2 separate regions of the Homo sapiens genome follow, and region 1 is linked to region 2. Evidence: fine-mapped expression QTL. Tissue or cell type: subcutaneous fat. Region 2 holds a variant in brackets; the other region holds the start of a gene. All regions are shown on one strand. Distances are from middle to middle.

What was found. PIP is the estimated chance that this variant, and not a neighbour inherited with it, causes the effect.
Region 1: TAS2R20 starts here. The variant in region 2 is fine-mapped to the expression of TAS2R20 in subcutaneous fat (FUSION, PIP 0.95).

What each region holds. Positions count from the first base shown.
Region 1 is chr12:10,993,929-11,002,306 of GRCh38, reverse strand. It overlaps TAS2R20 (taste 2 receptor member 20), which reads left to right and starts at 4,003. Exons shown (of 1, transcript NM_176889.4): 1 at 4,003-6,346. The coding sequence starts at 4,432. The coding sequence ends at 5,361. All of the region lies in intron 3 of PRH1-TAS2R14 (PRH1-TAS2R14 readthrough), which reads left to right. The region is part of intron 3 of PRH1-PRR4 (PRH1-PRR4 readthrough); the gene reads left to right. It also overlaps a transcript of PRH1 not described here.
Region 2 is chr12:11,369,516-11,377,893 of GRCh38, reverse strand. No RefSeq gene overlaps it. Among named protein-coding and RNA genes, the nearest start is that of PRB2, 22 kb to the left of the region's middle. The variant G/A (reference allele first, on the strand shown) is at 4,029.

The sequences.
Region 1 (8,378 bases), 380 kb after region 2:
AGCACTTAGAAAACATGATTGAAGTCACATTTATAGAAGAGCATGGCCCCTTTTAACTGACATTATCATCATCACCAATCATCATCTATATCTATCTCATTAAATGATTTATTTTTGAAATGTTTACATAAATAATTTGGATAATGTCTAATAAATGTTTAAAAGATTATTATTATGGGAAAGTTAGATTAGAAAATGGAAAATTTCAAGTTGAACCAAATACATTTTTAAGTATAGTTTAGTTTAAAATACATTGCTTAAGCAAATCATTATAGATAACCTTAAACTGATCTTAGGAACACTATAGGAAAGATTTAGTTGCGGTGTTAATAAAATTCCTTAATTAGAAAGATAAATAAGCCACTTCATGATCAAGCTCTTACTTCTAAAGTGAAGGTTTTATTTTATTTATTTTTTAACCTTTCCACATTTTATTGACAAAGAATTAATAGTATAAATTACGTTTATATTGCAAAGTTTATTTATGGAAATTTGATACGTGTACTTCTACTCCTTTTTACACCTTACATGAATATTTAAATAATTGATTTATAACACTCCCTGATGCCAGGTAAAGTAAAGCCTAATCGCAGTTCAGAAACTCACATGTACAACAAATTTAACTTTCTGGATATTTTTAAAACTCAGCTTAATTTCCCTAGGTGCTCCATTAACCTGATGGCAGAAATTAAATCTTAAGCAACTCTGGGTTCTCCCACAAGCACACTTTGCTTCAGAGTTGTGCTGAAGTTTTGAGGAGGATGGGAGGAGGCAAGGAGGTGTCCAGTCCTTTGTGCATCTATCCCCTGGCATTCTCCCATCCTGCCCCAAGTCATCAGCCCACACAGGTTGCTGGCACATCTAAAGTGAGAATTTTAGGACTAAATAAATCAAATAGAAGTAAGCCCTCACATCTTCTATATCTCACCTGATAGTGAAGAAGTTTGAAGGTACAGAGCTCCACTTCTGCTAATAAAAAAAGAGTAAAATTTAATTTGTAAAATAGAATGGTGTAGCTAGGGTTGAGGTGCTATAATTTATTTATTGGAATGGCATCTTGAGATCCAGCACAGCTCATTGAATTTCCCTGTGGGGAGAGTTTGTGGTGAAGACTCATCAACAGACAAGCTGCTATCCCCCCCTAAAAAAAAAAGCTACTAACATCACATCAATTTCCAGGTTCTTCCAACTTGCGGAAGGATGTGTAGACCAAGCTTTTATTCTATTTTGTGACCAAAGTCTTGGGAAAAGAAGAAAATTGTTAGCATTTTCATGTCAAGCATACGAAAAACAAAAAAACAAAGCCAACCAACTGAACAAAGAACCCAACTTTTTTTAAAAAACTTGGTGGTAAGAGTGCTTTGTTCTGCTTCTCCATAGATAATGATTTATAGAAGGAGAACAAAATATAATTTCTGCTACTAAAACAATAATAGCAAAAAATAAATAATCAATATTGAGAATCCAATAGACAGAGTTAACAACCAGTTAGACATAGAAGAGAGAATTAGTGAATTGGAAGACAACTATAAAGAAAGAAGCCTAAAGAGACCACAAGACAAAGAATGCCAAGCTAAGAGGATAAGAGGCATTGATGCTACAATCAGAGCATCTAACATACTTCTGGATTTCTGGAAGATTAAAAGGGATAAAATAGGGCAGAATCAATGTTGTGGAGATTTTCCCAAAAGTGATAAAATGTATTAATCCATATATTTTTAGTAACCATCAAAGGTCAGACAAGATAACTAAAAACAAATTAACATAAAATGTCACAAGACATCAAAGACCAGTAGAAAATCTGAAAAGTAGCCAGAGGAAAAGATAGATTATTTTAAAAGGAACAACTTTCTAAATGACAACCTGATTTTCAACAGAAAAATGGAAAGTAGAATTCAATGGAATCATGTCTTTAGTGTGTTTCAAAAGAATAGAGGACCTTCATAAACAGAAATCCAAATGATATTTTTCAGATAAAAAATATTGAAAATACAAGGTTAAGCATGCAAGAAGGAATAAAAATTAACAGAAATGATAAATATGTGCATAATTCTAAATGAATGTTGACTGAATAAAATAATAGCGTCTTGCTGAGTTAAATATATTATTGATAAGATATATGCAAATAGCGATAAAGAGACTGGAGGTAAAGGTGACAGGAACAAATTTAGATAAATTATTTTTTGCACTTTTCTATGTCTGTGAGGATAATTTGAACACCACATTTAATGACCCCATAATAGGAATTGCATCAAATGATATGTGAAATAATGCTGATAGTAGTATTATTCATAATAGCTCAAAAATAGACTGCCCAAATATATATTAACTAAGGATGATTGAATGATATGAAAGATTACAGTAAATCCATACAGTGGAACAGTATATAGAGGTGAAAAGAAATGAATCACATGTACATGCAACTATGTAACTAAATTTCAGAAACATGATATCTAGTGCAAGAAGCCATGAACAAGAAGAACACACAGGACTGCACCTATACACAGTTCAAAGCAGGACAGACCAAGCTGTGGAGTTTAGGGTTGTGAACCTAGCTGGTAAAGTATAAAGAAATTCAAGCAAATGATCATCATAGATTATGAATATTGCTTATCTCAGGAGATGTGAATAAAGGTTTAGGGGCTTGGAAAGTGGCCTGGAAGTGGACCTAGTCTGTTTGCAGTGTTCCATGTCTTATCCTGCATGATGGTTACATAAGTGTTTATGATACATTGCTCTTACCTATTTTTGTTTTGGCCCATTTCTAAGTGTGCATTATAATTTTATTTAAAAAATTACAAATTGGGAGAAATGTCACGTAAAAATTATTAATTGCTCTGCTCATTATATACCTAGGGGGAAAATCCACCATTTACGTACATTCTTATACAACTCAAGAGAGCTAAAGTGAATTCTTATTTTAGTTGCAAAATGGAGAAATTTGAGATGCTGTTACCTACAGCCTCCAGATCTTTCCAAAAGTTTTCTTCTAGTTTTAGATATTCACCTCATATTACAAAAACTTTGATATTTCCAACCTATTTTTCCTTTGGCTCCTGAATTTCTGACACAACAAGGGCGCACATATTTCTCAAACTCTTGGATTAGCAGAGTACCTATATCACTTAGCTTTTTCTGCAAAAGAAACTTCTCCAAAACCACATTAGATATTTATATCTCACATGTTTTTGGATTCTGTTTTCTTAAGCTGGGGTTTGGTGGATGGCTCTGGTGATTTGAGATGGTCCAAGTTTTGCCTCTTGGATCTAGTTAGAGTTTGGCCGATTTAAGGCTGGATCAGGCAGGAGCCATATGATTCCATGAGTTACTCATTCTTATTCTGGGAACAGTGTGTTAGTGTGGACATGTTCTCATTATAAACCGGAAAGGAACAAGAAAGCCTAATGTGGAGGTCATCTCAAATTTCGATGTAAAGTGTAGTAATTTTCTGTTCATCAAAGCAAATTACATGATCGAACTCAGAGCCCTAGTGCAAGGTTGTCACTATGCCTGTGGTGGGAGGACACTGCAAAATTATGTGACAAAGGTCTGGTACTCAGGAATGTTTACAAGCTTGCAGGTAGCATTACCAAAAGCCTAAGCATGAGAGATATGTTTCATGAATATTATTCATTGGCTGAAAATCTGGCATGGGAAAAATAGGACTAATTCCACCAGGACGAGCTCCTGGAAACTCATTTTCCATGTCATAAGTTACAAGAAAGCAATTCCTTCCATCCTTGAAGAGTGAAAGTGTGTGTGTGTCTGTGTGTGTGTTTATGAGCTTGTTAATAGTGATGCCATATAGAAGTATTGGTTAACAGCAACCAAATTATAAGGAGTATTGGCTTTCCTGTGGTTTCCAAGAAAATCTTAGGTGATTTTGATAAAAAGTTTAGATTCTGTGTATTTAAATCTGGCTTTAAAAATAAATCCATAGTGATTTTGATCCTAGATTTCACCAGGCTCTTTTAACAATATATTTTTTGTGTCATCTATGTACTGGGTATTAAAATTTCCCCAACAACTGAAGGGCTGAACACAAATTATGGAAAGGTGAAACAAGGAAAAAATTGCAAAGCAATGAAAGAGGATATGTCTTTATTTGAATGCTAGCAAATGAGAATTCAGCTTTCCCTTCAACATCAGTATGAAAAATTTCAGCCTATAGCAAGAATAGAGACTTTATGAATAAGAATTAATTTGAGTTGTTTTGGGACTAACAGTATTTCCCATAAAGGCAGCATTGAACTCATTCATTAGTTTAAGCTGGTGCTTTTCTGTTGACATTGTTCACAGAATTTAAAAGTATAAAGAATGTTATTGGACATTCAGGAATCAAGTGCATATTTAACTTAAAGTCTTGAATATCAGAGGAGTCACCATCAGTGACATTAGGCCTGAATTTTTTACTTGCTTTTTTGTTTAGACATGATGAGTTTTCTACACATTGTTTTTTCCATTCTAGTAGTGGTTGCATTTATTCTTGGAAATTTTGCCAATGGCTTTATAGCACTGATAAATTTCATTGCCTGGGTCAAGAGACAAAAGATCTCCTCAGCTGATCAAATTATTGCTGCTCTGGCAGTCTCCAGAGTTGGTTTGCTCTGGGTAATATTATTACATTGGTATTCAACTGTGTTGAATCCAACTTCATCTAATTTAAAAGTAATAATTTTTATTTCTAATGCCTGGGCAGTAACCAATCATTTCAGCATCTGGCTTGCTACTAGCCTCAGCATATTTTATTTGCTCAAGATCGTCAATTTCTCCAGACTTATTTTTCATCACTTAAAAAGGAAGGCTAAGAGTGTAGTTCTGGTGATAGTGTTGGGGTCTTTGTTCTTTTTGGTTTGTCACCTTGTGATGAAACACACGTATATAAATGTGTGGACAGAAGAATGTGAAGGAAACGTAACTTGGAAGATCAAACTGAGGAATGCAATGCACCTTTCCAACTTGACTGTAGCCATGCTAGCAAACTTGATACCATTCACTCTGACCCTGATATCTTTTCTGCTGTTAATCTACTCTCTGTGTAAACATCTGAAGAAGATGCAGCTCCATGGCAAAGGATCTCAAGATCCCAGCACCAAGATCCACATAAAAGCTCTGCAAACTGTGACCTCCTTCCTCATATTACTTGCCATTTACTTTCTGTGTCTAATCATATCGTTTTGGAATTTTAAGATGCGACCAAAAGAAATTGTCTTAATGCTTTGCCAAGCTTTTGGAATCATATATCCATCATTCCACTCATTCATTCTGATTTGGGGGAACAAGACGCTAAAGCAGACCTTTCTTTCAGTTTTGTGGCAGGTGACTTGCTGGGCAAAAGGACAGAACCAGTCAACTCCATAGATTCACAAGAGGTGCATTGTGTGTTTTCTAGCAGAAAACAAATTGATGGTGTCTGGAACATTTTATATTTCCCACAAGTTTTTCCGTAGTCTATGTATTTGAGTAATTTCCAAAAGTTGACATAGAAAAGTCTTTTACCTAAGTTTATTATATAAAAGTATATATATATAATATACATTTGCGTGTGTGTGTATGTCTGAATGTATATGAAAATTTAATATTTACCATAACATACCTTTAATCAACTTTTCATATAAACTGTTCAGTTATACCAAAGTAGGATAAGAAATTTCTCAGAATTATGAACCCATGTGTATTTCACACATTTTTTTATATGATATTTCATTTGAGGAATTTATGATCTCTATTTATAATTAAGAACTGACAGCTTATATCAGAAAATCATTGCTGTTTTTCGTTGTAAAATCATTGCTGTTTTTCGTTGTAATTTGTATCACGTATATGTACCATAGTGTGTTTAACTGTTTAACTATCATTGTTTGAACCTCTAATTTTTTGGATGGTAAGGACATTTAATTCTAAATCGATGAGAATGTGTCTTTGGGGTAGGTTTTTTTGTTTTTTTTTTAATCATGAATTCTTTTTTTCTTTTTTTTGAGATGGAGTCTTGCCCTGTTGTCCAGGCTGGAATGCAGTAGCACAATCTTGGCTCACCACAACGTTCACCTCTGGGGTTCAAGTGATTTCCATGCGTCAGCCTCCTGAGTGGCTGGGACTCCAGGCATGCGCTACCACACGTGGCTAATTTTTTGTATTTTTCTTTTTTTTTTTAGTAGAGATGGGGTTTCACCATGCTGGCCAGGCTGGTCTCGAACTCTTGACCTCAAGTGATCCACTGCCTCAGCCTCCCAAAGTGCTGGGATTATAGACATTCATGATGAATTCTTATTTTATGTTTAATATAAAGCAAATACAATTATTGTTAGATAACAATGCACAAAATAAAATTCAAGGGTGAAAAATATATCTAGTGTACATTTTTATGTGTATCAAAAGCAATACTGAGGAATATTATATTTAATATAGTATGTTAATAGCTTAGAAAAAATCATTTCTATAAAAAGGATGAAGAAACATGATCATGAGCTCTTTTCAGTGCTGTTATAAGTTTCCATACGCAATTAGAAAAGTCATCTCTTCCAGTTTTTGAATTAAACAAAAACCTTTTTGAAGTTGAGATCTGATGTTATATATTTCAGTTTTTTGTCTAAGCCACCTCTGAGCTCCTGAATTGTCAATTTCCTCCTTTATCTTCCATCCTTAAAATTCCTCAAAAAGCTCAAATTTTCCTTACTTTAAAAAGAAGCTCAATCTAAAGAGGGTATAGAAACTATGGCATCTATGAAATCTATATATTAATGATAGGAAATGTCTTAAAGATATGTTTTATTATAATCTTGGTGTAAATAATGAAATGAGAGAAAGTGTGTTGACATATTCACTAATAGCAAGTTCTATTACAAGAAGAAAATGTATAACCTAGTTCAACAGCTAAATTCTGTGTGACTGTATTAATTTCTGGTGTTATGCAATTTTAACAATATTATCTAAACCTTAAGATAAATCATCTCCACATCTGATTTGTTTGTTTATCATATATCTTACCTGGTACAATGTAAATACCATAAAAGTAGAGATCATATAGATCTTGCTTACTGTAGACTCCCAAGACATAAAGATAGCACATAGAATAGGTATTGAAAAATGATACTTTGATGAACAAGTTAATTGGTGAATGAATGAATATGAACTATATTGGGGTGGTGAACCAATGAAAATGTAACACATCACAAAATCTACAGTTGGGTGCACATTTCTGTTCTGGTTTCAGATTGAAGTTACAGGATTATCCAAGAAGAAGAAGAATTTCTCAGAGCAAAAGTTTGGCTATTCCACAATTCTAGGGGAAATATCACTATAATATAGCAGTGATGCAGCTATATCAGATGTGTGACACAAAGACAAAGTGGAAAATAAAAAGATGGCATTTATTACAATACTTTTTACTAAGCATATAAAAGATTTTTGTATAAGTGCACATATCTTTTCTATTGCGAATGATATATTTATATTGTGGTATTTCTAGCTGGTTATTATATAAACAAAAATGACATTTCATTTAAAAAATTTAGTTACCAACTATCTTACTAAAATATAATCTTTATTTAGTATTTTTAATATCCTTTCTAAATGACCACTTTAATCACCATATTATAAACTGATGGAAAAATGAATGAATAATAATTATAACACTGAATGAATATCTTATCAGGGGTCTAGAAGTAGAGCAAATGTCTGATATTAAAGTGATGACATTTATTTGGAAGGAGGTCCACTGCAGAAATGGCTGGGACATGTGGAAATTGAGTCAAGAGAAGATGTGACACTATGTGCTGTAATGTGTGATATGACTCTGCTGACGACCACTTCACAATGATGTGAGAGAGACAGCATGGTGGTTATCAGATGCATGCACTTGGCTCCCAGGACTTTTTCAGAAGGGCTGCGAGAGGACAACACAGCCAGCATTAGCCCATGGAAGCAACAGAGGACGGAGAATATATCTGCTCAGCTGTCTTCTGTCTTCTATTTCCCACTGGCCAGGGTTTCCCTGAGGCAGAACTACCATCTCTGCTGTTCTGCTTTCCATCATCCAATCCCTTGATGGAGGTTATGAAAGTCAGACCTCATGCCCACAATGTGGTGATCCATTCAAGTCCCAAATGGAAGGGTGATGTGGGTCAGGCAAGGTGCTGACCAGGGGAATAGGAGACAGTCAAGTAAATCTGAGGAAGCACATGTTTGTGTCCCATGCAGTCCACTCCTTGTGCCATTCAGATGTGCTCATGCCCTCCAATCATGGCTGACTATGAGCATATAATTTCCACTGTTGCACAGGGTCTTGTGCTTAGAGACGCACACGCTTAGAAGGGCTTTATACATGGGTTAATTTTCTGCACCTGCTGTTTTGTTTTTGAGACAGAGGGCACTCCTCT
Region 2 (8,378 bases):
TCCCAGTTAGGCTACTTGGGGGTCAGGGACCCACTTGAGGAGGCAGTCTGTATGTTCTCAGATCTCAAGCTGCATGCTGGGAGAACCACTACTCTTTTCAAAGCTGTCAGACATGAACATTTAAGTCTGCAGAGGTTTCTGCTGCCTTTTGTTTGGCTATGCCCTGCCCCCAGAGGTGGGGTCTACAGAGACAGGCAGGCTTCCTTGAGTTGCGGTGGGCTCCACCCAGTTCGAGCTTCCTGGCCGCTTTGTTTACCTACTCAAGCCTTGGCAATGGTGGGAGCTCCTCCCCCAGCCTCACTGCTGCCTGGCAGTTTGATCTCAGACTGCTTTGCTAGCAATGAGCAAGGTTCCATGGGCATAGGACCCTGTGAGCCAGGTGTGGGATACAACCTCCTGGTGTGCTGTTTGCTAAGACCATTGGAAAAGCACAGTATTAGGGTGTGAGTGACCTGATAATCCAGGTGCCATCCATCACCCCTTTCCTTGGCTAGGAAAGGGAATTCCCTGACCCCTTGCACTTCCCGGGTGAGGCAATGCCTTGCCCTGCTTCAGCTCATGCTTGGTGGGCTGCACCCACTGTCCTGCCCCCACTGTCTGACAATCCCCAGTGAGACTAACCTGTTACCTCAGTTGGAAATGCAGAAATCATTTGTCTTCTGCATCGCTCACGCTGGGAGCTGTAGACTGGAGCTGTTCCTCAGACTTGTTTTTTTTCTAAGATAAAAATACTTTAATGTGTATGCTGTTTTCTTCAGTTAATAATTTGAAAAGACTGCATTTATATGGTGAAATTCTCAGGACCCTCAATTCTTTATAGATAGGCTAAATTATTTGTATCATTACTTGCAAACCTTCTTGAATGTGGTGGAGGTTATGTTAAGAAATAAAGTTTATATAATGTCTAATTTCATATTGTAATTGCATTCTTCCACAAAGTTTTTGAAATCCCTTGTATTTCAAACCCATCTGGAAGAGCAGGATCAGATTCTAATGTGTACAACACAGGATCCTCTCATCAAAATGATCAAGTGGCCTGTGTTTAGGATTTCCAGTGGCAGACCCACACACAATGCCTTTAACGAGGTATCCTGAAGTTATCACTATCCCTGAGCCAAAACTGAATGATGTCACAAAAGTTATTCGAGGCCTGAAATGATAAGTGGCAGCTGTTAATACTGACTAACCTGCATTTTCCATAAAAAGATGAAATGATGGGCAGAAACTACTTGATATAACAGAGAAGTCAGTGGATGAAAAGAGAGCTACCAACACAAACTCAGTAAAAATACTTTGGAAATACAGTATATTGATCCAAATTTTAAAAACAAACATAAAATGAAAGGAGTAAGAAGAATTATAGATGCTTACTTAGAAGAGTCGATTTAAGAAAATTCCCAAAATGTATTTATAAAGAAGCCAGACATAAGATGAAAAATAAACACAGGGAAGATTATTTAGAACAGAAAATGTCAACAAATACATTTTAGAAAGCGAGTCTTGAGAAATTAGTTTCAGAATATTGCAAAAATAAAAAAAATTTCTGTTTGGAAGAAGAATCTGGGAGACAGCACATGTACTAAGAAATAGATCAGTGCAATACCCTTGAGGCTTTTATGTGGGTTCCTGACTATCTTATTGGGATATATAATTGTGGCCACTCATTGTAAGTGGGAGTGATTAAAAATTTTTCCTAGAAGAATAACTGAATGTAGTGACTCATGTCTGTTATCCCAGGACTTTGGGAGGGTGAGTTGGATGGATCCCTTGAGGCCAGGAGTTTAAGACCAGCCTGAGCAACAAATTGTGGATCCATCTCTTCAAAAAATTTTTAAATAAATTAAAAAATAATAAACGGGCATGGTGGGTGTCATGAACCTGTAATTCAAGCTACTCAAGTGGTTGAAGTGGGGGGAATCCCAAGAGCACAGGAGTTCTAGGATGCTGGAATCCATGATCAGGACACCACCCTCCAGCTTGGGTGACAGAGCGAGAGCCTATATTTATATATATATAATCTTGTAAGACATAAAGTCCAAACTGTATCTGATCAAACATTCTAATAAAGGGGAAGAGCAAGAAAAAATTCTTAAAGACATGAAGTAGGATGGCTCATTCAAGAACTTCTATTCATTCTGTTCATTTCTAGAAACCTCTGGTAGATTTTGTGTCCAACTTTGTTTTAACCTCTCCACGAATATTAATAATAGAATTCGTTAAGACACCTGTATCCTAAAACACCGAGACTTTTCTGATCGGAGCCAGATCCAAGGAATATTGGACAATCTGTGTGGGTCCGACCGGGCTGAGGGCCAACCTTCTGTCAGCCATGAATGGCCAGGTTTGTGTTGTCTGCACATAGCTCAAAGTTCTAAAGACATAACCTCTATATAATCAAATATTTAGCGAAATATGATAGGCATAGGTATACAAAACTCCACAGCCAACCTACCTCTTGTTCCTTAGAATATGATTGTGTTCAGAAAATAGCCCTAAGAAGAGGTGATCAAGCTAAAATGAGGGAGTTTCAGTGGAACTAAATCCAATAAGATGAATGTCCTTAGAAAAAGTGGAAATTCCTTATAAGAACTGGAAATTTGCACACAGAGAGACACAAGAAGTACGTAGGCACAGACGCAGCCCCATGGGAGGACACAGCAAGAAGGTGATATCTAGATGCCAAGTAGACAGGGCCAAGAAGAACTGGACCTGCTGACACATTCACCGTGGAACTTGAGCATCCAGAAGTGTCGGAAAATAATTTCTGTTGCTTAAGAATATTAGTCTGTGATATTTTGCTTGGACAGGTATAATGAAGAAATTCAGGGGAGAGCAGGTTTTAGGAGGCAGAAATTAAGAGTCCTGCTTAGTGCAGGAGTGTAATGTAAACGGTATGGTTACATTATTTTAAATGGCAAGTGGATTGCTGACGTCCTTGACTCATGGACAAATGCCTAAGCTTTTGTTGCCATCTTGCTCCTTGCTTTTACCCCATCCTAAATCAGTGACACTGTCTCCATCAGTTCTTTGGTAACCTCTATTTTGCTTGTCTCTGGTAGCTTGATATCTGATATTTAGTCCTTCCTGATATGCTAATCTCTTTCACTCATTTCTGACATAGGAGAAGGTCAGGGCATGAGTTGAGTGATATTTGGAAGGATCACCTCTTGCCTTGCTGTACTCAGCAGACAAGGAGAAGTCTGTCTCTAACCAGGACTGCAGCTTCCCCACTGATTCCCACAAGGAGTCACATCTGCCTGGCTCTCCCCTCTGCTTCTTCTCTCTTGCGTTTCTTTCCTTCCTGATGGGCCACCATAAGCTACCTAGGCCAGACTGCCCATCAACAGCTTCCTTTTCAAACAATGTTTGGTGAAACCAGAGAAAATCATTCAATAACATCAGGACACCAGATTGGCCCAAGCACTCTGTGTCTCTCTGAAAGAATGTGAATCTCAGTTACAAATGTTAAACTTTCTATGTAACTGGAGAATATTTGGCCACTGGTATTATATTCCATCTTCAGAAAACATCCCTATTTATCCTAAGAGAAAAACAAGACAGCAATCTGCCTAGTCAGCTGCAAAATTCTAAGTTACCTCTAGTAGAGCTTATTGTATCAGGATGCCTTCCTATATGCAGTGGGTTGTTCAAATGTTGAAGGAAAAGGTATATCCTATTAAGAAACACCATGAATGGATTCCAATGTTTTGGCACCAAAATGAAATCATAATCTTTTGCTATAACATGTCTGAACAGGAGCTAGTATGAGGCATCAAGAAAAATAAGAGCAGTTTCAAAAGAGCCCCTAGAAGACCAACATGAATTTTTCTAAAATTAAAGTGAGTATAAACATCAAATTTATGGTGAAGCTTGGGTGGAGGAAGGCAAAATCATTGATGGTGTCCAAAGAGTTGTCCTACTTGACACGTGGTAAGTTGACATTGGTTGAAGAAGTCAGCAGTTCACAAATTCAATGAGGAGTTCATTTCAAGAAGGAATGAGGCAATGTTGAACCTAAAGCTTATCGT[G/A]ACAGATGATTCACATCATATTGCAAGGAATAAATTCATCTTCTTTATACCCAGGAGAAGAGGTGTGATGATTAGCAGCTCACACAATAACCAACACTGCAGACTTCTCAGTTGGTTCAGTTTACATGAATCTAACTGAATGATTAAAGTTTAGTAAGCTTTTCACTTAATGGATGCCCAAACTGTGTCACCAAGATCAAGTACAGACAAGAGCAGAACTTTCCCTAAAAATTTAAATAGGAAGAACGAAGACCATAAGCATTTCTTCAATGAATTATAAGAGGAGATAACACATGACTTTACCAGTAAAATCCAGAAAACAAATACAATCAAAGCAATGGCTACCAAGAGGCGGAAATGTCCAGTCAAAACAAAAGTGGATGAGGAGAGCACAAAGATCTTGGCAAGAGTTTATTGGAAAGCTCAAGTCATTTTGCTGGTTGACTTTCTGGAGAATGACAGTATCTCCTTATTCTGAGAATATTTTGAGAAAGTCAAAGCTTTACTAGATGAATCCCTGGGAAAGCTTCAGCAGAGTCCTTCACCACAACCTTCCTCCTGCTCATTTCTCTTATCAAACAGGGCAATTATATGAGAGTTCTCATGGTAAATCATTAGGCTTTCACATTACTGAGAAGTGATGCCAGGTGGACTTCCTGGGTCCACTGTGGACTTGGAGAACTTTTCTGACTAGCTAGATGATTGTAAATGCACCAATCAGTGCTCTGGGTCTAGTTAAAGGACTGTAAATGCACCAATCCACACTCTGTAACAATGCACCCATGAGCCCTCTGTGTCTAGCTAAAGGATTGTACATGCACCAATCAGCACTCTATAAAAATGCTCCAATCAGTGCTCTCTGTCTAGCTAAAGGATTGTGAATGCACAAATCAGCACTCTGTAAAAATGAACCAATCAGCACTCTGTGTCTAACTAAAAGATTGCAAACGCACCAATCAGCAGCCTGTAAAATGGACAAATCAGCACTCTGCAAAATGGACCAATCAGCACTCTGCAAAATATACCAATCATCGGGATGTGGGCAGGGCCAAATAAGGGAATAAAAGCTGGCCAACTGAGCCAGCAGTGGTAACTTGTTTGGGTCCCCTTCCATGCTGTGGAAGCTTTGTTCTTTTGCCCTTCACAACAAATCTTGCTGCTGCTCAGTCTTTGGGTCTGCACTACCTTCATGAGCTGTAACACCCACGAGAGGGTCTGCGGCTTCATTCCTGAAGTCAGTGAGACCATCAACCCACTAGGAGGAACAAACAACTTTGGACACAGCTTTAAGAGCTGTAACACTCACTGAAAAGGTCTGCAGCCTCACCCCTGAAGTCAGTGAGAACAAGAACCCACTGGAAGGAAGAAACTCCAGACACATCTGCACATCTGAAGGAACAAACTATGGACACATCATCTTTAAGAACTGTAACACTCACTGCAAGCATCCGCAGCTTCATTCTTGAAGTCAGCGAGACCAAGAACCAACTGGAAGAAAACAATTTTGGACATATTACAACCCTAATTTGGTTTCTTTCATTTTTTTTTGTTTTGTAATCTTATAACATTTGTAAAAGGCATCCATTTTCCTTCAGTTAATAATGTAAAAAATACATATCAATAGCTGGCATGTTGACCAAAATGTATGACAAGTGGTCAATAATTTGTGTCTTTTTATATAGCTCATTAACAAGTAGGATTGGGAAATGGTTGTAAACTGAGTACCAGGTGGTAGAATTGAAGGAAACTTCCCATGTAACACTTTAGTTTTTGCTCTATTCCAAAGACAACAGGAGGTAAAGGGTTAAAGATGCCCCAAAGCTGTTGCACACCTTTGGGGAGACTTAAAATTCACGTGTTTATTCAGTTGAGTCTTAGGCTGTGACTACAATGCTTGAATTAGACAGTAAATGTGTCTTACTTACTTGCATGAAGACACTTTGTTCACATCTCTCTTATCACTTCTTTTCCTCTACTCGGATCTCAGTTCCTTTAAGGATTCGGGCTGGGCCTGAGATGACCTGGCTCAAAAAGGACTAAAGGCCCTACGTACTCATCTCCAAATCTTGCAAAAATATCAAGGAGGGTAGAAACATAAGTATTTATAGCTCTATTGCCTATACTTGCTCAATTCACCATTGTACTTGATTCTGTCAGAGTAGGGGAAGGTGTGCTGAGGATACAGGAAAGAGCTACAGTGGCATATAAGGGGAAAGAAAGGAAGAGACTGCAAGTCTGTTGAATCCATAGACACTGGAGTTGTGTTTAAACGAGGTAGACCCTGGGGCTAGAAGCCAAGGTGGGGGGAAAAAAGCTTTTCAGTTGCAGTAGTCATTTATTATTATTATTGTTATTATTAGTATTATTATTTCTTTTTAGAGACAGGGACTTGTTCTCTCACTTAAGCTGGAGTACAGTGGTGCAATCATGGCTCACTGCAGTCTTGAACTCCTGGGATCAAGCAATTCTTCCAGATCACCCTCTGAATTAGATGGCACTACAAGTGCCAATCGCCATGCGAGGTTGATTTTGTAAATTTTGTTGTATACATGGGGAGATCTTGCTATATTGTTCAGGCTGATCTTGAATTCCTGACATCAACAATCCTCCAATCTCAGCCTCCAAAAGTAGTGGGATTACAGTCATGAGCCAGCATGCTGGGTGTATAGTCACTCTTTCTACCTCAGCCTCATTTTCCTGCATTCTGTAAATCCCCATCAGAAGAGAGCAGGGCTGCCTGGCTACTGGGATAGCCTCTAAGAAGCCAATGTTAAACTCTGTGGTTCTTGTAGAGGAAAAGAAAAAAGAAGTCCTTGAGTTCAATTGAGCTTTGAGAAAATGGGGTACAAAACATGAAAAGTTAGGAAGACATTGTGGATAAGGCCCTTGGGACCCATTCAGCACACTTTTCTGTGTTTTTAATTTTATAAGTGTGTATTATGTGAAATACTTACACTCTTATCTCATAAGAGCCAAGGAGAATCATCCACATAGAAGCTTCAAGCAGAATAACGTCAGTGGGATTAACTCTTCTGCCAGTGGAGCCAGTGGGTGGATCACGATGCAGCCTGAGTGCCTCCACCCTTCAATGTCCAAAGCTTGCCTTGTTGAACTTTTTGTGTATTGTAAACACAGAAAAATGCCCATGTGAGGCATAAAATTGAAAATTACTCAATATACTTTTACAAACCGTAAACAATTGACCAACTGTTAATGAAGGGTATAATCAAGATACGACAACCTTGAAACAACTTGGATATGGAAATGATCAGACTTTAAAGCAGCTCTTATAGCCAACTTTTCTGAGGTAAATGTGAACACTCTCAAAATAAATGGGAAAAAGCTTCTCAGCAGAAAAAGGAACTATAGAAAATAATAAAATAGAAATTTCAGAACTAACATATATAAGTCTAAAATTTGAAAAAAGACCTTATAGACTGTGAAAGTTTTTCAGAAAGTAAATGATCAAGGTGTTTGAAGACAAAAAACTAAATTAACCAAGTCAAATCCAAGAAGAGACATCTTAGAAGAAATGAACCTGTTAACACCTTGATCATGGAATGTGAGCCTCCAGAACTGTGAGAAAATTAATTTCTGTTGTTCAAATTACACAGTGTGTTTTGTTTTTTTTAAGGGCAGAGATAACAAACTACATCAGGGGAGAGCAGTTTAGGATGCAGAAATCAAGGATCTTATTTGGGACATGTTATGTTTGCATCCATATTAGAAGGCAAGTGGATTGCTGAGAGCTTCAACTGACCAAAAGGTGCCTGAGCTCCTGCTGCAGGCCTGCTCCTTGCTTTGACCCCATCCTTACTCCCTGACAGGGCCTCTTTCAGCTCCTCTGTCATCTCTGTTTTATTTGTGTGTGGAGATTTCATAGTTAATATTTATTCTTCCCTAATAAACTAATCTCTTTCACTCATTGCTGACATTGGACAATGTCAGAGAAAGGGCCTGAGAGGAGTGATATTTGAAGGCAATGCCTGCTGTCTTCCTGTACTCACCAAGCCAAGGGGGAGCCTTTCTTTCACCAGGACTATGACTTCTACAGCAACCTATGCAATGAGGCAAGTCTGCAAGGCACTCCCCTCTGCTCCTTCCCTCGGATCTTCCTTTCCCACTAAAAGGTCTACCATAAGTCACTAGGCAGGACCATTCATCTCCAGTTTCCCTGTCTAATCAGTGTGTGTGGAAACCAATGATAGTCATCCCAATATCATTAGGGCACCCGCTAGGACAAGCAACTACTTTATGCCCACCCCTAAAGCACATAAAGCCAAACTACACATGTTTTATTATTGCATAGCCAAAGAAGAATTGCTAACTGGTAATATATTTCCTCTTTAG